Regions from separate parts of the Homo sapiens genome. Here region 1 is linked to region 2. The links come from fine-mapping of genetic effects on gene expression. A gene starts in region 2. The other region holds a variant in brackets. All regions are shown on one strand. Distances are from middle to middle. Region 1 overlaps LINC02930 (long intergenic non-protein coding RNA 2930). Region 2 holds the start of LINC02930 (long intergenic non-protein coding RNA 2930).

Region 1 (11,044 bases), 200 kb after region 2:
GGTGGCTCAACCAGGGTTGAGAAAAGCTGGAGGCAGAAGCCCAGAAATGAGGGGAGCTGTAGACCTGGCTCTTGCCCCCACATATATGATGAACCACCAAAGAACCAGCAATGTGCAGGAGCTCAGCCACGCCTTCCCATACATCCACTGGCTGCCACTTTATTCTACTGTGAACCCCAAATATCTGAAAGAGGTCTCAGTTAATTTTGAAAGTTTATTTTGCCAAGGTTGAGGACACATGCCCATGACACAGCCTCAGGAGGTCCTGACAACATGTGCCCAAGGTGGTCAGAGCACAGTTTGGTTTTATACATTTTAGGGAGACATGAGACATCAATCAACATATGTAAGATGAACATTGGTTCTGTCTGGAAAGGTGGGACAAGTCCAAGTGGAGAGGGGGTTTCTAGGCCATAGGTCAATAAGAAAGAAATGGTTGCAATCTTTTGAGTTTCTGATTAGCCTCTCCAAAGGAGGCAATCAGATACATATTTATCTCAGTGAGCAGAGGGGTGACTTTGAATAGAATGGGAGGCAGGATTGCCCTAAGCAGTTCTCAGCTTGATTTTTCCCTTCAACTTAGTGATTTGGGGGCCCCAAGATATTTTCCTTTCACACTGTCTTGCACATCTCACATAAATTTCTCTTGGGGACAACCCTGACTCAGAACCAAACAGAGAAGGGAATTCTGAGAAAGGTAGTTTTTGCTTTAGCATGTTGACACAATACCTATCCACACTGATTGAGAAAACAAAGAAAATACAAATTACCAAAATCAGGATTGAAAGAGGTGATATCACTATAGATTTTATAAACATTTATGAAAAACAAGCCCTGGCTCATTCATTGCTCACCTTCAGAATTTCCTGGTTGTGTGTGCTCCTGGGAGAAAGAAAGTTTACATTAAAAAAGAAAAAGACATCCAATTACCTATCCTTCTTGTTTCCTTGCTGAGTTAAATATGCCTATGTATTAAAGCAAAAATTTAAACAATCGATCAATTAGAGTATTAGGATGTACTTTGCTAAAGGATTCTTCAGGCAGCAGAACATGGACAAGTTTCATGGTAGGTTATTTCACTGACAAGCTCAAGGGCAAGAACGGTGAAATTTAAAATCATTAGCCTCTGCGCATTAAAGATTGGTGAGAAATGAGGACAACATTTCAGAAATGAAAATTATATGCCCACAATACTTTCAAGCAGAATTAAACACAATCTTAAGACCCACTTATTGCCGGAAGTGAACATTCTTTGCACATGCTCCAGCTCCCTTGTTTCCTTACAATACAGATTCTTTGCCTTTTGTAGTCAGGATTAAAGGACATAACATCCCTCACTATGCAGAGCGTTGTGCAAATAGTGATCATGAGAAAGGAGCCTGTGAGTTAGGTTTCTGCTTTATTTGCCCATACAAAGAGAACAGAGCCTTCTAGAGTAGCTTTCCCATTGTCTCATTATTTGTCATACAACTCAGCACACACTGGAAGACAATCACAAGGTGGGCACACAGAGGTTTGATCGAGGTCCTGTTACTCAAAGCTCCCCTTTGCCTCTATCTCTATTGCCAATGAGGAAATGTATCTGATCAATTAACTCACACTAGCATACAGAGGTGCCTTTTCAGATCAGAGTATTTCTAAAAAGATATCTGGAGCCGAGCATGGTGGTTCATGCCTGTAATCCCAGCACTTTGTGAGGCCAAGGTGGGTGGATCATGAGGTCAGGAGTTCAAGACCAGCCTGGCCAACATGGTGAAACGCGGTCTCTACTAAAAATACAAAAATTAGCCAGGCACAGTGGCAGGCATCTGTAATCCCAGCTACTTGGGAGGCTGAGGCAGGAGAATCGTTTGAACCTGGGAGGTAGAGGTTGCAGTGAGCCAAGATCGTGCCACTGCACTCTAGCCTGGGCGACAGAGCAAGACTCTGTCTCAAAAAATAAAAATACAAAAAGATACCTGGAGAAATCAACTACAATATGGATTTATAATGGTGGGATATCAAGCACTGGTGAGGCTGAGTTAGAAGAGATTTGGCTACTATGGGAGGAATTTTTAGACTCTGCTTGAATCCTTTCTCCCTCTCTCTGCTTCCTTCATTGTTTCGTGGAAATCTAGAAAGTGCCAACTACCTCATAAGCAGGTGGGTTAATGCCTGCCTTGACTGGATGTTTGATCTCATTAGCCGACAGTTTCCTTTTTCATCATTTCCAACAGCGCCATTGTTTATGACCCCAGATAGACCTGGGATGCTAGTTACCAGCCTGATCATGTCCACTGTCACATTTCATGTCTTCTGTCAGAATTTATGATGTAGCATCCTTTGGAGGTCACTAAAAACATCTTCAGAGGAAAGAGCTTCTGTGAATCCACTGAGTCATAAAACCGTCTCCTAGAGAGGAGTATTTCTCATGGATCAGAAGCTGTCTGGAAGAGCAGCTTGCAGGAAGGAAGAGTTAAATGAGACAGTCGGTTGCGCAAACACTTGAGTGAGAAAGCAGTGAGAGCGATTCGATGAGCTTTTTCTTCCCCTAAAATTAATTACAATTTTAAAGGCTGGCAGCTTGATTTTATATTGCAACTTTCTTCAATTAAATCTACATTTTTTCTATCTTACTTCATGTCATCTCACTAATTGGTTGCAGCATCTACTTGTGCTACCACCAAACTGTCTTTGCTTAAAAGAAGCTGTTTTACTAAAAGAAAATTAAAAATGTAAATGTATCCTATCTTATATTGCCTCTTCCTTTTCTGCCAGAAGAGAGGGGGAAATAACTGATCAGTGAAATCCTAAGAGGCACAAACTGGAGTTACATTTTTGCAATGTGCGGGACAGCGCCATGAAGCTACAATGTGTCTGGTACCCTGGGTTCATTCTCATCCAGTCAATGCATATTGAGCACCCACTGTATGCCAGGCCCTGGTCTAGATGCTTTGGGGTCTAAGCAGGATCATTCAAGTGTCCATAAGAGCTTCCTCCAGCTTCCCAGGCATGGCAGAATCATTAGCACACTCAAAACTCTGTTTCTGGTGGCCTTTCCCCAAACCGTTAAAATCATGGCAATGTCAAGTGAACAATTATTTCCTTATTTTCCTTCAATAAATGCTGGTAGCTATTGTATTACCACCTCCTCCACTAACATCCATTTTGAAAATAATGGCAATTCAGTAAAAAGCTTAGAAAGCAAAACAAAGTAAAATTATTCTGTTTCATTAAACAACATTAAAAGACTGGGTTCAAAATAGGGTCTGTGTTATACTCAGCTGACTCTGACGACCAAGTCAGCAGGGAAGTCCCTCCAATTTCTTACCATCTGTGGGTGCTAGAAGGGCTTGCAAACCTGCTGTGTGTAAAAGGTGGCAGTCAAAGAAGCCTCTTAAAACAAGAAAGGGATTTGAAATGGCTGTGTCCAACTGGTTGTCAATCTGGATTCCAGGGGCCCTAGAGGTTCAAGGTGATGCCTCCAGACCACTAGGAGGAGCTGTTGAGGGTGGTCAAGGGGCCAACAGACTGCAACCTCCAGTTCCCCACCCCAACTTCAACCCAAAGGGTATCCCTTTCACCTGTCTTACCTACCAGTGTCCCTTGGGACAATCCATGAAAGAAAAGAGCTCTACAGAAGAAAAGGGCTCTACAGCCTTAAAAATAAGGAAACCCACTGGCCTATGACCTGCTGTAGCATGCTAGAGGGCAATGCTGATGACGTATTCTCTTTGGGACTCAAATAGTTTGAAACAGCGAACGTTTTGATGAATGACGAAGTAAAAGCTGGGTTGGCCAACACTGTACTGTTACAGATGATGCTTGCTCCTCTCCTGCAGTTCTGCACACTCCTCCACCCAACATCAAGTGCCTGGGGAAGCCAAGCCAGCGTAGCACAGCCCCCAGATACTTCAACATTCAAACTTCAGACATTCAAGTCCACATTTCCATGCAATCCTGCATAATGTAAGCAAATTTAGCTTGCTTAAAAATAGATACTCCCAAGGTTGGGTAATGCACGGCCTTTTTTGCTGTAAACCAAGATGCAGCAGATGGAGACCTTAACCATTATTCTTTTTGCTCCTTCTTTTTCTCAGTTCATGACACAGTAAAGGATGATTTCAGAGAAAAGTTAATAAGAATATGCATCTAATGAGGATTGCAAAATGTTCACTTTGCAGTGATGGATAAAGCCATTTTGGAGTCAATCCTAAAAAGCCAAGACTCCTGGGTGTCAGTCAGGATGGAGCGATGCACAGAACCTAGAGGGGAAGCAGTCCAACCCCCCAGCAGATGCATGAGTTTATGCAGAAATTTGAAACAAGGCTGCCATTTATTAGGTATTTATCATGAGCCAGGACCTCTGTAAATAGCATCTCTAATTCTCAAAACAACCTTTTAAGTTAAGTATTTTCATTTTACAGATAGGAAACTGAGGTTCAGAGAAGTAGTATTATGTCCAAGCCGCCAAGCTAGTAAGTGACAGAATCAGGTTGCAAATCAGATCTGCCTGATTGTTCTCTTCCTGCTTCCCACACTACCCCACTGTTTGCACATCTCCAGTGACAGGGAACTCACTGCCTCCCAAGCCACATGTGTGCTGAATAGCGCTAAGGAATAAAAAGCACTTTGTGTTGAAATGAAACCCACTGCCTGTTACTGCTACACCTAGAACCTGCATCTGCCCTTTGGAGCCACACAAAGTCCATCAAAGAGGGCTTCCACAAGACAGCCTTCCAAGGAATTTGAAGAAAGATTGTGGAGCTCAATTTCTCTTCTCTAGGTTAAGCCTCCTGGGGCTGGGGTGTAGGGCTCAGGATGTGGGTCCTGGAACCAGACTGCTGGGGTTCAAGTCTCTGCTCAGTGACCTACTGGGTGAACGAGATGAATTTCAAATTTTCTTTTACTCAGTTTCATCTTATACTCTGTCTCATCCATAAAATGGTGTGAAAGCAATAACATCTACTTTTTTGTGTTTATGAGAATTCAATAATTTATAGAAAGCACTTGCCATACAGCTTGCAAACAGCAGGAGCTTAATAAGTGACAATGATAATCAGTACTCATGGCTTCCAGCTGTGTAACAATCCTGCTGTTTCTCCTCTTGACCTTTTCTTATTGATGTAGGGGCCTCTTGAATGTGATGAGGAAACAGAACGGAAAACTCCAGGACAGGCCTGAGCAGCTTGTAAGAGAAGAGCATCATCGCCTTTATTCTAAATGTGATGCTTGTTTTAACGTAGGCTAAGGGGAGTTATTAGTTTGGGCTATAGCCACATTATACTGGTAACTCGTATTAAACTTGGAGTTAACAGAAACCCCCTGATATTTTTATTCCACCCTCCATGCCATCCTAACTCAAGGGCCCTCTGAAGTCTAAAGCTGAAAGGTGGCTTACTCGAATTGAGTGGTGGGTAAATGGGGGTTGGTTATGCATAATCTGTTTTTCAGACATTTGAAATTCTCCATATTTTTTAAATGAGGGATTTAAAGATTTCCAGGACTTAGTCTGGGCCAACTTAGTGATGATTGAATGAAATTTATTGAATGGACAGATGGAAAGATCGATCTGGTAAGTCCATGGATGTGAAAACTGAGGATCTGAGATTTTAAGTAATCTTCCTGGGTCTCATAACCAGCCAGAATTAGGCATCAGTCTTCAAGCCTGGGGAAAGAAACTGGCATTTATTGCTTTTTGTACCAGACCCCTCGCCAGGGGCTTTACCTGCCTTTTCTCATTTAATCTTTACAACCAACTTATGCCGACAAAACCAAGGTCCAGACGTCACCCAGCAATGAATGGCAGGGCTCAGCTCCAAACCCAAGCCACCAGACCACACACTGCCTCTCTCCAGCTCTGTGTCGACGGGTAGTTCTATATGCAAAGCTATCTATATTGTTTTAAGGATAACAAGTAACATTAAGCAACTATCTGCTGGCTCCTCTTCTATGTGCCTTATTTCTTTCAACTCACTAATCCTGATAGCAACACCATAAGATGTGAGGCAGGGAAAATGTAAATGTCTTGCTCAAGTTCATCGTTAATAAGTAGAAGGACTGAGATGTGAACTGGATGGTCTAGTCTACGGACTGTATATTTAACAACCACAGCCTATTGATTCTTGTCTATCAACCTGGAATCCAGAAATACATGCCTCATGTAGGCACCCTCCAGAATTCTTTGTCCTCCCTTTCTCGTGTATGTCTCTTTCCCTAGACCCTTACCTCCTTTCCTCCTACCCCATCATAAATGGTTGCTTCATTTGAAATGATCTAACACAAAAATTGGTGAAATGATTATCAAATTTGCAGAGTACTCAGGTTGATGTGTGTCAAACACATTTATTATGCAACCAAAGATGCCGATTCTGGCTTGTTTTCTCAATTCTCAGCTCTAAAAGCTTGACAAGGAACATTACTAGAAAAACACATGCTCTGTAGTTAAGATGGATGAAACTGCAGTTTGT[G/A]TTGATTTTGGTAAGACAGCTAGTTAAGAACATGTTTAATTACCTGATCCCAGGGGTTGTGTTTGAATTAACCAGATGTTGGTTCCTCTCTGTACTGGAAGATGTTCTCAACGGATTCTTATTGATGATAGGAGGATCAATGGGTAAGTGTGCTTCAAAGTAATTAATAATGCATGTTTAGGTTAGAGAATTCAATAGCTTAAGAGAATAAAATATTTTAATTCCTATATCATCAACAGCAGTTATTTGCAACAAAGGACGACTTTGTCCCCCAGGGGATATTTGGCAACACCTAGAGACTTTTTGGTTGTCACAACTGGGGTGAGAGGTGCTACTGGCATCTACTGAGTAGAGGCCACAGCTTCTCCTAAACATTTACAGTGCTCAGGACAGCTCCCCACAGAAAGAATTATCTGGCTCAAAATGTTAATAGAGTGGAGGCTGAGGAACACTTATCTATAACAATACCAAAATAATACAAATAGTAATGAGAGAAAAGGTATTGATTTCACGATACAGAAAATGATTCATAATAATAGATTGACATTGGTCCCCACCATCACATCAACTCTATTAAAATGAATGATAATGGTTATAATTTAGTTAAAGGTCACACTGAAGCAGAGTTATCAGTATCCAATGAAAACATTTCTAGCCCTCTTTTTCTGTAGAAATTGTTCCACAACAGCCAGTTTTTCTGGGATTCACAAATTCAGGGATAACATGTAACACATGGGCTTAGCATTAACATAACTACAGAAGGAGAATTGGCTTATAAACCTGAAGACAGGCTCAGCACGGTGGCTCACACCTGTGATCCTAGCACTTTGGGAGGACAAGGCAAGCAGATCACCTGAGATCAGGAGTTCAAGACCAGCCTGGCTAATATGGTGAAACCTTGTCTCTTCTAAAAATACAAAAATTACCCAGCGTGGTGGCGCATACCTGTAATCCCAGCTACCCAGGAGGCTGAGGCAGGAGAATTGCTGGAACCCAGGAGACGGAGGCTGGCTGCAGTGAGCTGAGATCGCACTACTGCACTCCAGCCTGGGTGACAGAATGAGACTCCGTCTCAAAAAAAAAAAAACAAAAACAAAAAAAAACCTGAATGCAAACGAAGGTTCAAGTGAAGGTGTCACCTGCTTGGGTAAGTCATATAAGTCCCATGCCTGGGTTTCCCTAATCTTATAATGAAAGTAATAGAAAACTTCCTGAGGCATTAAGATGATTATATTAAATAAAGCATATCAGCCCCTTAATAAGAAGAAAACACTATCCTACAGAAGGTTTTATTAGAAGAATCGTTATTACAAGTAAAAACAGACACCTCAAACAGCCATAGAAATTGCCTGATAATTCTAAATTCTAATAACAAACCCTAAAATAGTTATGCCCTAGTCAATTCAATCAAAGACTTAGTCATTCTTTTCTAATAAAACATGATTGTTTGAATTAAATGCTCTTAATAATATCCCAGAATTAGATAATGGCAGTGCACCTGGAGATTTCTCTATTATCAACAGAATAGCATCTCTTTGAGAAGCAGAAATGGTTGAGTGAGTTCTGAAATGAGACTAGAAAAAACAAAAATAGATATGGGGAAAAAGAACAATGTATAAAACAATCTTTCAATTAAGACTAAACAGAAAAAAGAGGCATATAGGCCAAAATCTGGGGCAGAGAACACTCTTCCCTTATGGTTTTATGACATTAGACAAGTTTTTCAGTTTCAAGAGGACAGGCACATGATTTTAGTAAAAGGAAGGCTGTATTGAATAACTAAAGGCGTGAAAATAGAAGGACAAACAATTTTTAAAATAAAAAAGGCAAACATAATGCCCTAAAGCATATCCTTGGTTAAATAATTTATTTTTCCGAGTTGCATGGAACAAGAGCAGGTTAAACTGTACCCTTCTGTAAAATTAAGTAGAACTCTCTATATAAGGGTATCAGGAGCAGAGGGCCCCCTTTTAATCTGTGAAGTGATGCACTTTAAAAATTCCATGCAGTGCTGGCCCAAGGCTAAATTTTCATATCAAACACAATGAAATTCAGGAGGAACTTATACCAAATTAATTTTCTCAAAGCATACATTGATTTGCTCACTTCCTACACTCCGTGCAAACTCAAAAGCCAGCTGAGGCTCTGTAAAGAGTGTAAGTTCAGACCCTCCTCCTGCCAGTTTCCCTCCCATTCCCTCTGTTGGCTGTCACACCTGCTATTATGCACAACTCCCTCCCTGAATTAGGGCCCTGGATCCCCTGCTTTCCTCTTTCCAAGGCTGCTTTTGCTGCTGCTTTTCCCCAGGAGGAATACTCACATTTGGATCCTAGCCAGCTCAGCCGCCACCCCTCCAGGAAGCCTCCCTGACTTCCCCAGCTGGAAGGCTGCCAGCAGCCCATCCTGCAGCCCTTCCCAACAGCTCACCTATCACACTTTTTGTATTCTAGATTATTTTGTTCCTGGACCCAACACCATGCTAAGCAGGAGAGGAAGAAGGAAAGAAGGGAGGGAAGCCCTGGCTTCAGCATCCTTTGAGCACTTGCTGCTTGCTTGCCCAGCATTTCCCCAACATCCTTGCTCTTCCAACTCTTGCATAATCCTGGGGAGTCAGCACACTCCACTTACAGAGGAGAAAACTGAGGCTCAGGGAGGTCCCCTGCTCTTTCCCCCACTCTATGTGGCCACAGCTTCTCCAATCTGCCTGGGGCACCCCACCAGTGATGTGTTGCTTACTGTAGGCTGCCTGGACACTTTTGGTGCGAATGCTAGAAAAATGAATTCCACTGACAGACCTCAGCATTACTTAGTGGGAGCCAAGGAGGCCAGTTGCTTTAAGCACTCCTGGAGCATTGCCTCAGGCCACTGGATAATTCTGGGCAAGCTGATAGCCACTGCCCCAGCCCCAAACGCCCTGGGTCCCCTATCGGAAATAGATTCCCTCACACCAAGCCGATGCCTGGGCTGCCCACACACTGCTATGCAGAGTAACAGGGTGACAGGCCGTAGCATTCATGGCTGCCACTGTATAAATATTCCTAGCATGGAAAAGCAGTCTTAGACTCATGGTGGCTTTTTAGGATTATATTTACATCAAACGCAGCCACTAACTTCGGGAACATCTTGACAACCCACCTCTCTCCTTCCTCTCTGGGGTAGCTCTTGTAACCCTCCCCTTTGCTCTCTCTGTGCCAGCCCCATTGGCCTCTTTGTGTCCCACAAATGCACTGAGCATACTTGAGCCTAGGGCTTTGCAGTGACTGTTCCCTCTGCTAGAACACTCTTCCTTTGCACATCCATATGACCAGATTCCCTTTATCTCTTCCAAGAGTTGGCTCATGTGTCGCCTTCCTGACTGGGGCACCGTTCTGAAAATTGTAATCACTTCTCACCCAAGCACACCCTCCATACTCCCAAGCCCCATACCTGTTATGTTTCTTGTCTCTGTAGCATTCACCACTGTACTAATATTCTATTTATATTCTAACTTTATTTTTTTCTTATTTCTTGTCTCCACCCACTCTTTCCCCAAAGAGCAGGCACTTTTGTCAAATTTATCTCACTTTTCTATCTTAAGTCCACAGCAGAGTGTCTGGGGCATAGCAGCACTCATGTTCAATAAGTACTTGTTGAGTGAATAAACCTTAGAACATTTCCCTGGTATTATGGTTCGAATGTATGTCACCCTAAAATTCATATGTTGGAATCTAAGACCCAATGTGTGAGTATTAAGAAGTGGGGCCTTTAGAAGGCAATGAAGCCATCCCTCATGAATGAGACCAGTACCTTATAAAAGGGCCCCAGGGAACCATCTAGGTCCTTTTTGCCTTTCTGCCTCCAGACATGTAAGGATGCGGCAAAGGCCCTCGCCAGATGCTGAATGCGGATGCCGTCATCTTGGACTTCCTAGCTTCCAGAACGGTGAGAAATACATTTCTATTGTTTATAAATTACTCAGTCCATGGAATGCTGTTGTAGCAGCACAAATGAACTAAGAGACCTGGCAGATTACAGACCTCATTTTAATTTTAAAAACAGAAATTAGGATGAGCTAATATATTAATTTCCTCTGACTGCTCTAACAAATTACCATAACTTTGATAGCTTAAAACAACCCGAATTTATTATCTTACAGTTCTGGAGATCAGAGTTTGATATGGGTCAAACGAGGCTAAAATCAGGGTCTCATCTGGCTTCATTTTGTCCTGGAGGCTCTGGAGGAGACTCTGTTTCCTTGCCTTTTCCAGCTCCGAGAGGCTGCCTGTATTCCTGTAATTCCTCGTAATTATGTTGAGCCTACTCAGATAATCTAGGAAAATCTCCTCATCTCAAGATCCTTAATTCAATGACATCTGCAAAGTCTCTTTTGCCATGAAAAGAAATATATATTGATAGGTTTTGGGGATTAGGGCACGGATAACTTTGGGGGAGGCAGATTATTCTACAGGTAAAAACTTTTTGCCATTTACATAATCTTTAAAAAAAGATTTGATTAATTATGCAAATGTTTACAACATACAGAGGAAGTACAAAAAATGATGTCTTTCACCAAAAGCAAACAGCTAACATTTGTCATATATGTTTGGCTCACAACT
Region 2 (11,044 bases):
ACGCTTAGATTTTATCCGTAGAACAAAGAGCCTTGTGAGGAGGGCTACCTTATTCTGGGGTTGTGAGCAGCGACCGGCTACAAGGAAGTGGGCCAAAGGGCAAGCTGGCTTAGTGATTTCTGCTGATTGTGTTGCTAGTCTAGTTGAATTTTTTCTTTTTTCCTTTAATCAGTTTTATAAAGTTTTTTGGGGAACGGTTTCAAAACCAGCTGAGCGGTTTCTGACCATGCTGCTGTGCCTCTGCCTGGATGGCTCTCCCTCACCTAGTTCTTTCTCCTCCTTCAGGCCTCAGCCTCAATGCCACCTCCTGAGCCCTGCCGTCACTGTGACGGCTCCCCCCTCCCCCAACACACACAATTAGTTTTTATTGTATTTTCCTAAGTTCCTTCATGTCACAGTTATATTATTCATATATTCTTATGGGTCAAATTGTCCCTGTCCCAAAAATTTGTATGTTGAAGTCCTAACCTTCAGTACCTCAGAATGCGACCTTATTTGGAGACAAGGCCTTTACAGAGGTAATCAAGTGAACATGAGGTCATTAGGGCAGGCCCTCACCCAACATGACTGGCATCATTATTCAGAAGAGGAGGTTTAGACACAGATCTGCACAGAAGCATGGCGATGTGAAGACAGCCATCTACAAGCCAAGGAGTGAGACCTGGGACAGATTCATTCTCCTCACAGCCCTCAGAAGGAACCAACCCTGCTAACACCTTGATCTTGAACTTCCAGCTCCAGAATGGCAAGACAGTACTTTTCTGTTGTTTAAGCCACCTAGTTTTTGGCACTTTGTTACGGCAGCCCTACTGTACTAATACATATATATATATTTCCTTTCTGCCCTCTCTAGAGTGCAGGCTTCTTGGGAGCAGGGATCCCCTCTGTCTCATTCATAGCCCTGTCCCCAGAGGGGGCCTTCAATATATTAATATTTCCGCATTAATGAATGGGTACATCATGTTATTTTGTTGTTGCCATTATCCCTATAAGGTTGGCTTGCCAAGTTTAGGCTCCTTACCCAAGTTGATGGCTAAAAGAGAGAACTCTTGATACCTGGGGCCGCATCATTCCAATTATGCTACAGTTCCCTGAGGGCCTTCTTATGTTAGATAAAATCTGGAAACAAATTCTACTGTCTTTTCCTTCTTATAGGATACAGAAGACTTGTTCTTCTAAAAGTGTTTCAGGAAGTTCAAAGCTGTCTCATTTGGGCTGTGGGGAGAGAAGCAAAAACAACAACAACAAATCAACCAAACCCAGATACCTTGAATGACATTTTTCCAGTAAACAAAGCAAACCAACAAACCAAACAAAAACCTTCTTTATTTTTTTTAACCTAAGTATTGGCTATCATACTCATTTATAAAGCAGACACCCCAATCCATTCTCATATGATTATTTACTCCAATGTGATTTGCAAAGATCTTTCAAGAAGCTGTCAGTTGCACACTTGGAGCTGTAGGCCCATTGATTAAAACACACTTGCAAACTAAGAGACATTTGCCAGAATGGCCAGAAAAAAAGAGGCCATGGCAGCTTTTAAACCAACACCAGACAGGTTCTGAGAGACCAAATGCATGCAGAGGGGTGTTTGGGGATGGAGGGTGGGCAACAGATAGTAAATATATTACTGCTTTGAGTGGCCAGATACCTACCTGGAAGCAGGTTTGCAATATGATAGCCCACTCAATTAATTTTTTTTTCCCCAAGGGGCCTAAGTAGTATAGCTATTCTTTAATTTGAAATGAGTTAAGTTTGGGGAATGATAGCATATTTAATGTACAGCTGGGCACTGGTGCATTCTAACTCTGGCTATGTTCTCTTTTGTGGTTTTGCCTTGGTCTCTATGTCCTTGGGGTGTCTTTTCTCTGTCTCTATACATCACAGTGTGTTTCTGACTTCTCTGCTCATTCTTCTACCAGCACCTCTCTGCCTCTCTGTTTGTCTGTCACTGTTGTCTCTCTCTGTCGTCCTGTCATATTATCAGGCTGCCTGTTTGGCTACAGTAAAACTTCATCAGCCTCCCCTACACTGAGAGCAGAGCTTTTTTGTGGAACACAATAGCATTCAGAAGAGAGAAAAATCTCTTTAAGTGTGCAAATGCTGTCTCATTATCCTGAGACTGGAGGGAGGAACCTCTCAAGCTTTGTCATTTCAGTAAGAAACAAAAACCTTTGAAATTTTTACAATTATCTTCACACTCATATCTCCTTGTCCCCTACACCAGCTAAAAGATGAGTGAATAGCGCTGAGTGCTCGTTGGCTGGTCCATGGAGGGAAGGATCATTTATTGAGATATTAATTCAGGTTCTATCTTTGCTGCTGAAAGAGAATCAAAAAGAATGAGAAGCTTTGCTGTCCTGTGCTCTGGGTCTCTCCCTCCCCCAGGCCCTCAGCTGGGCAAGGAGGCAGGGAGGGCCTATTATACATGCTTTTATACACACACACACACACACACACACACACACACACACACACACAGAAATACATAAGCTTAATCTCTTCTTTTGGTTGAAAAAGTATAGCTGAGTGGGTGAGAGTAATAGCTCCAGAATTATGCAAATCATAGCTCAAACACAGGTTCATACCCACAGATTTACATCCCAGCTGTACTATGTGGCTTTGGGTGAGTTACCTAGATTCTCTTACCTTCAGTTTGTTCATCTGTAACATGGTGATAATGAGGAAGTTACTATGAAAATGAAATGAATCAATTCATTTAAAATATCTAGAAAAAGTGCTTGGCCCCTGGCAAGTACCTGAGAAGCTGGCTCTTATTTTCACTATTACTTACTGACTAATCTTGGAGAAGGAAATTGTTAGTGATTACCCACCGTAAAGCTTTGAACTGGATGACTTCTGAAGTTCTATACTTCTCTAAACACCATGGACACGGGTTTCTCATAAGGCCTTATACTCTTCTCTACTTTTGACTAACAATGGGTAAAAGCCATGATTAGAAATTGGACTGAAAATACAGTGGCTTAACACTTTAAAAAGAAAGATCTAGGGCTCACAGAAGACCAACCAATGATCTGAGTCATGTGGCAAAGAGCACGTAGGGCAGGGTTTGGGTTAGGTATACCGTAGCATTATTAGCACAGTTCACAAACTCTTCTTCCTTTGGGACACTAGTGGCCCCAGGAGGGAATGCAATTTACCTCCGAGAGAGTGACTAACTGGACAAATAAACAAGAGAAGAAAAAAGTGAAGACATTGAAACAAAAAAATTGGCTTATCTGATTTATAAAATAATCTGCTAGAGGGTGGCTGATGTCTTCACAAAGCCTTTCACTTGCATGAACTCCGGGCTGCTGTTGGGAGGAGCATGTTCAAGGGCTCCCTGGCTACTATATCTTTTGACTCTTTGGGAGAGAGAAGAGGCAAGGGCTTCAAATCAGCCTAGAGTTTGAGACTGAGCTATTTGAAATAGTGAGAGGAAAGAACAGTAGCTGTCCTGAACATGCAGAAAGTCTTGACTGATCAGTATCTGCAGGGCAGATTTTCAATCCTTTTAATCCCTTTGAGATGGATTCCACAGGCTCTACTGGGTAGTGGATCCAAGATGGCTGTGTGATCCTGGACAAGCCTCATCTGTAAAATGGCAGCAATACCTGCCCTATCTAACTCATAGAGTGGCTGTCAGACTCAGAGAAGACAACAAGTGAATGCTTGGGGACCTGACCAGTTGTAATGGCACAAGTGGGAAAATGCTTCCCATTCTCGTTCTTTTTCTCTCTCATTCACTTATGTCCCCATATCTGTAGTCAGGCATTTGTGGTATAAATAGCTTGGTTAGGAGTAGAGTGGGTAGCCATGAGCAGGGTGTGGAAGTTAAAATGGCACCTTTGCCAATTCCAGCCAAGCCTATGGCCAACAGCCAGGCCTGGCCTCTTCCACTTGACACTGGCCTGCTGGTGAGACTCACAAGACCTCCTTGCTTTGTAAACATCATCCAAAATTCTTCCATCAGTTGACATCACCATCTAGTGGGGTCTTCTCTCATGGGAACTTCTGCTCAGAGAGCGAATTGCTATGAGTCAGTAGGAATGACTAACAGAGATTCCAGAGAGAAGACACTGCCAGTTCATGGCCTCTTAAAGAAATGAATACATCAGTTAAAAGGCTCTTGTCTGCTGTCTATGACTTTCAGAACAACTTCTCCCAGTTGTCTGACATTGAGAGTAATGGAACCCTTGGGAGAAGTATCAACGTAATTAACAAACTTAGACATAATGATCCCTGATACTTTTAACAAAACATAAAATAACCAAGAAATGTCTACCACTTTATAAGTTCACATTGGAAACACACCTGATATAAATAATGAGTCAGAACAGTGGTTTCACTATTAAAAGTCAGCAGGTTTCATTATTAAAAGTCAGCCAAGAAAACGTGAAAACTTACAGGCTGAAAGAATAATTAAAGGCGATCACTATAGATTTTAAGCATTATTAGTTCTCAAAACTTCTGACTGGCTGATGATGAAGACAAATTCATTCTAATTGTCCTTGATAATTTCATGCTTTTAAAATCTCATGGCAAGACCAACTTGGGAGCCATAGTCCTCAACAGTGGGCATGGTCAGAATGATGGCTGGTAAGAGCAGAGCCCTAATCCATGACAGAATCTGTTAGCCTGCATGGATACAAGTGGGATGATGACTAATGAAGCCACTATTTAGCATTGTATCTAGGATTTCCTTGCCATCTGTAAACCGTGACCCCTCCCTTCAGGCAGTTTTTTAACCTGAGGTGGTTACCTGTTTTTGTTTGCTGTCCTACACTCCTGGCCCCTTGATAGAATTCAACTCTTCTTTGATAACGATTCAGTCTTCCCCTGTTCAAGTGATCAATGTGGGGCTGACCCCACCTCAGCTTCAGAGATGAGCATGTGACCCTGCCTGGCCAATGAGAATACCATATCTCTCTGACCATAGTGATTGGTTAAGGGATGAACATGTGGCCCACAGCTGACCAATCAGAGCTACTGAGACTCAGTTCTATGGTTTCAATGGAAACCACTGAAAAAGAGAAACTCTCTTTTGGCTAGAGTTGCTGTGAGGATGGAATGGGGAACCTGGACAGCTCCAGCAATCTTACTGCAGAAGGTGCTTCTGGGTGGATCCCAGGCAGAGGAATCAGAGGCAAAACATGGAGGGAGTGAACTCCTGAAATCACTTGGGTTCTGAATCCAGCCAAGCCCGAAACCAGCCCTGCCCTGGGCTTTTCAGGTACTTGAGCCAATGCATTCTCTTTTCCTCTTCATCAAGGTTTGTTTAGAGTTTGCATCCCACGTGACTGAACAGAATGGACATTGCTCTTAGCAAGGGACAGTAACCATGAGTCCAAGTCCTGAAACAGAGATGGGGTCCCCTTCCTCCCTTCTCACTGGTTTCCTTCCTCCTGAGTGGGGTCTATCTGAGCCTGGCATTTCCTTCGTGACAGTTTCATTTGCTCCTGGACGGTTCCCTTGCTCACCATCAGCCCTCGGGCCAGCTCTAACACTCAGTTTGTCCAGATAATGTTAGGAACCTGTAAAGAGGAACTCTATGTTGTTCAACTTTTTCTCTCATTAGCACACTGTTTTTCTGTCCCGGGTGATGCAGGCTGAATGCAAAGCAGCAAGATGTGCTGGTTTGAATTCCGTGGCCTTCCTTCATCAGCCTGAGTGTTTGTGTACACACAGCTGGGCTGCAACGTCAGTTTCTGTCTGATGGCTCAGAGCCACAATTTTACCCTGTTATTGATGCCCATTATGTCATTTTAGAAAATGTAGGGATGTGGCTGTCCAACTTATCTGAATATCTGTATATAAATAAATAAATGTACATTTAAATCCATCCTAACTTTGACGTGATCTGAGGGAAAAATGAGGTCTTTGTGTTTTCCCATAGAAATAAGAAGAAAGTAGGTTAATAAACCATCAGTATCACAAGCAATAATGCAACACATGAAATATCATTTGCAAATTATTTTTGCAATTACAATGTTGGTTTTCCATGAAGAGTTGTAGCAGCTGCCTCCTCTCTCAAATAACATATTCACCTGTGGACAGATGGGGAATTGCTAAGATCCCAGCTTATGTTTGTGAAAAGAGAAGCACCACAGTTTAGTGAGCAAGGAGGTTACTAAGCTTGGTGTGCACTCAAAGGCCATGTCTGCACTGTGTGTGATGAAGTGGAGGCTTTGGATACCCATCAGCAAGTTTTATGTTAATAAAATATTTTTTCTTCTATCAAATGCTAAGACCAAAAAGTTTGTCATCTGAATGTAATCGCGTAATTGTCTTGACTCTCAGCTCCATTTTGTGCTCAGAAGAAAGCAGTTGTGTCACGAAATGGAAAGATGAGGTCTAGGTTCAGTAGACCAGTATTGGCATTCTGGGAAAAATAAGACCCCAAAGATAACTTTTTACCATGATTTCACAGACAAATAGGACCTGAGATTTTCTTTTTATGGAGCAAGAAAGCAATGCTTATGAGGACCAGATCTGGGTCTAGTACTACCAAAGAGACTGCAGAGACTTGTGGAGGCATGTGATGGTGTTTCTGAACAATGTTTTTAAATTGTATATGTTTTGTAACAGGAAGAGAGAGATAGGGAAAGGGAGGCGGGAGGAAGGAAAGAAGAAAATAAGAGGAAGGAAGGAAGAATGGAGGAAAATTTCTCTTAATCAGAGAAATAATGAGAGCAAAAAAGAAAAAGAAACCCAGAGAGTCAGAATTCTATTGCAGCATCGTTGGCTAGAGAAAAGGACACTCGGGATTTGACAGGTCGTTGGGAGTGGCTGCTGGGTTTGAGCAGAGTATAACACATCAAGAGCTATGATATACGAAACTGAGTAGGCTTATTTCTTGCATGGCAGAGGAAGGATTAGAACCAATGAGTAGGAAAGAGACTTTGGTTCAGTTTTAAGAACTTTCTTAATAGAGAAATGGGCTTGCCAGTGAGTAGTGAGTTTCTTGTCTGGAGACTTTCCAGCAGAGACCAAACACATATAGGGTACGTTGACAAGGGAATTTAAACATTGAGGAAAATGTTAGACTAACTACTGAGATTCTATGTTTCACATTCGACTCTTGGAAATTAAGCAGTCATCTTAATAGAATACCTGGAAGAATCTGAAGCCACTGGGAACAAATAACCCTTAGACTCATGCAGAGTTCAGAGGAGGAAAAAGCTATGGCAGCAAGAACAAAGCACAAACCAAGTTAACACTTTGCAGCAATGAGGCAATTACTTCCCTCCAAAAACTCCACAGGGAACAATAGTAGGTAGAAGTTAAATCACAAACACTTCCCCTCATTATCTAGGAAATAACTTGAGCTGCCCTTCTAATTAGCATCTGTAAGCAGCCCTGTGCTGTCAGTTCTGGATAACTCTCAGAACCTAGTAAGATGATTATACAAGATGCTCAATCCCATGGTCATTGTTGGCCAGAACACTGCCACCCACACAATGACATGAGTAAGAGGCACTGCAGAAGCCACTTAAACTCCTGGACATATGGGCATAATAACATTTGGAGCTATTGTATAGTTCTGCAATTCAGTGAGCTTCAGCATATTCTGAGAATGAACAAGCTTCCTTCTTATGGTTAGAGTTGCTTTGGCACCTAACTCTCCATGTAAAGAGCCTTGTGTGCAGGGGCAGAGATGATTACATTTAAAATAAAGGCTTACATTTGCATTAATCACATTTATTAGGAAGCTAAGCAAAATCTAAGCTACTGTTTAAAGGTTCTGATGGAAAACATTTTCTCCTTCCACCTGTTCTTGGGGCAATATATTCTATGGACATGGTGACGGCCACTTTCTTCAGGTTGTCCTAGGTAGCTATTTATAAAATCATAGTTATAGAATGTTGGGTCACTTTTTAATGTGCTTATTAAAGCCAAGGAAATAATTTGGCATAACTCCCCAGGCATACTAGAGAAAACCAAGGCATGATCCAAGTAAGAGTCTCAATTTTGCATTTCTCTACTTTCTTCTGGGAGCTTGTCAATATTTGCTATTTGGTTTTCTTACTTTTTTACTTTGAAATCACTATAGGTGTGGGTTGGGGAAGTGAGGATGAGATACACTTTCAAAAAGTTCATACGGGCTGGAAAGGAGATGGGCACCTTAAGTCCCTGGGAGGAATTCATCAAGTATTAGTTATTTTCATGTGTCATGGGTGAGAAGCTTTTCTCCTCTCATCCAAGCAAGCCCAGCCTTTGGTTTTTCCAAGGCAGAGACCGTCTACTGGTCTCTAAGGACTTTCTGTAAACATCTTGTTAATTAGCTGTTAAGCACATTAAGTGAGAAATAAACATGAGTGACTTCATATTTATAGAGTTTGACAGGGGTAAAATCAATTGCTAATTGAGAAGAAGAATTTGAAAAAGAGACAAAAATATACCTAAGGATTTTGGTTTTGAGTCTCTGTTTCTATAGCCTAATTTTTCTCCTGGTTGTATAGACTATCATTTCTTGTTTCTTGGCCTGTACAGTAATTTTTATCTGGGTGCTGAACACTGTAAATTTTACTTTGTTGAGTATTTGGATTTTGTTGTCATCCTTTAAAGAGAGTTAGACTTTGCTCTGGCAGAAAGTTGTTATTTGAGCATCAAATTGTTTTTGTTTTGTTTTGTTTTTGAGGTTTGTTTTTAAGCTTTATTAGAGTGGTCCTAAAGTAGTCTGTAGGGCTAGTACAATGGCATGGCCCTCATGAAGTCTCTACTAAATGCTCTGGGATTTTAACCAGGTCTCTCTACTCTGGCTGGTTGGAGCTAAACTATCTTGCATCCCTGCGTGAGCTCTGGGAATTGCTCAGCTCACAGCTTACAGGTAGCAGTTCTTTGACCAGTTCTATGGAGTTTTACTCTGAAAATACACAGCTCAGTTTTCAGTCAGAGACCCATAGAGACACCCATGCAGATTTCTGGAGCTTTTTCTTTGTACGTTTTTTTCCTCTCCAGTATACTACCTCACAAAGCTGCCTCAGTCTCTCTAAACTATGATCCCTGTCTTGTCAATTCACAAAGACTGCTGTGTTCTCCTTGGCATCGCTTTGGGCACTGAGGTCTGGAAGGTGCCTCCAGGCAGAAATCTGGAGTGGTTGTGGGGCTCACCTTGTTATTTATCTTCTCTCAGGGACTATGTTCTTAATGCTACCTGTTGTCCAATGCCTGAAAGCAGTTTTATATATTCTATTTAGTTTTCTAGTAATTTATGATGGGAAAATATATCAGCTTCCAGCTACTCTGTCATGGCCAGAAATGGAAGTTCTTCATTTCCTAGTCTTTGCATACACATGTTGCACTGTTTCTGCTGCCAACAATTCATCAAACATTACATAGTTGAATAGAAACAGGACCTGGAGGTTGGGGTTGGAGAGGAGATTGTAACTCAGTGGCAAGACATTCATATAAATAAGTCCACCATGGGGAAGAATAATAGAGACGTGTAGTCTGGGCATGGCCTGGCTTTCCCTGTCTAGGACTCTCACACCGATAACCCTCTAAGCTGGGCTTAAACACTTCTTCCCTTTCCCATTATCAATACTGACTCATCCTTGACCCAGACTTACTTTTGTTTATTTGTTGTTTTGAAGCAGTCTTTTATTCTTTTTTATTTTAAACTTTTATTTTAAGTTCAGGCTACACGTGCAGGTTTGTTATATAGGTAAACTTGTGTCGTGGAGGTTTGTTGGACAGGTTGTTTCATCACCCAGGTATTAAGCCTAGTACCCATTAGTTATTTTTCCTGACCCTCTCCCTCCTCCTTTTTTTGAGGGATGACGACAGTTGCTAATCTTGATCTAGTAAATGAATATGGACTGTGTAATTTCCTCCCAAGATCCTGGATCCTTAGCCTAGACATGATTCAAATGAATAATGATATCTTTATGCAGCAGGGAAGGACAATAGGAATGACTGGTGTTAGATGAGACTTGTCAAATTATGCCAAGCAAGCAATTGTCTATGGCTAGTGAACACCCTCAACCCTAGCTCCATTGCTTTTCTTAGCTAACTCCTTCCCCAGTCCCCCATTCAGGAAGATCCTACTTGACTTCTCCATCAGCTTTTTTAGCCTTCAAGCTCAGCTCCAGCCTATCTCCCCTCTAGGCTTGTTATATCATGTGTGCCAGGATGCTTACTTGGATGTATGGCTTCTTGCCAGCATATATTTTGTTCTTGAGGCTTATTCTTAAGTGGGTGGGCCACTGAAGTGTCATTCTCTCTATGTAAGCTGGGGCAGGAACTTGAAAATTGTTTGATGGAGGAGAATAAAGGGAAGTTTGCTGAAAGGATTAAAACAAGCCTGAGGAAAAGTCATGAAGCAGTAAAAGTAATAAATATTAATTACAGTCAAATGGAATTGTATGATGACTATTAGTTGTTTGCAGTTTCAGCTACAAATGCTGGATTCCTTTGATCTTTCTGAGGAAGGTAAGTCCTGGTTCCATCTCTAGGTTGTATTTGCAATTCTCAAGGCTGATTAAAGAACGTTATAGCATCTTCACATTAAGAAAGCTTGCCAAAGCTTTTCCCTGTTCATGGGGATAATGCCTGTATTTTCACAAGGTCTGATACTCAGCTAATGTGGTTCAAAAATATAACTGTCCTGAGTTTGAAACCACAGAAGAAACAGAAAAGATCCCAGAATTTTGCTTAATATTTTGTATTCCACCCAGAAAGAAACCTTATGAAGATAACATCTGTAGCAGTTAATTTGATTTTAGCAATTCTGACTTTCAGAATTTTGATTTAATAAGCCTCATAGGGTCCACCCAAATGCTGTATCTACATGTTTGCTCTTGACTAAAGACATCATAGAGATACCAGGAGAATGTCTGAACCTGAACTCTTGAAGGAAAACTAGACGCAGGTTAACTGGCTATGAAGGCTCTGCGTGATTCTAATTTCTGACTCCAGATTTTCCATCCTAAGAAGTTGGTTAAAATGCACATGCACACATTCACACACATGTCACACACCACCACCACCACCAACAACAACAACAACAAAATTCTCAACTTTTGTAGCTAAAGGAATA

Evidence for each region. PIP is the estimated chance that this variant, and not a neighbour inherited with it, causes the effect.
Region 1: its variant is fine-mapped to the expression of LINC02930 in whole blood (TOPMed, PIP 0.95).

Annotation. Positions count from the first base shown.
Region 1 is chr10:120,801,741-120,812,784 of GRCh38, forward strand. LINC02930 (long intergenic non-protein coding RNA 2930) reads left to right here. Exons shown (of 5, transcript XR_002957103.2): 3 at 10,291-10,370. All of the region lies in intron 1 of WDR11-DT (WDR11 divergent transcript), which reads right to left. Among named protein-coding and RNA genes, the nearest start is that of WDR11-DT, 44 kb to the right of the region's middle. The variant G/A (reference allele first, on the strand shown) is at 6,450.
Region 2 is chr10:120,603,538-120,614,581 of GRCh38, forward strand. It overlaps LINC02930 (long intergenic non-protein coding RNA 2930), which reads left to right and starts at 5,045. Exons shown (of 5, transcript XR_002957103.2): 1 at 5,045-5,236.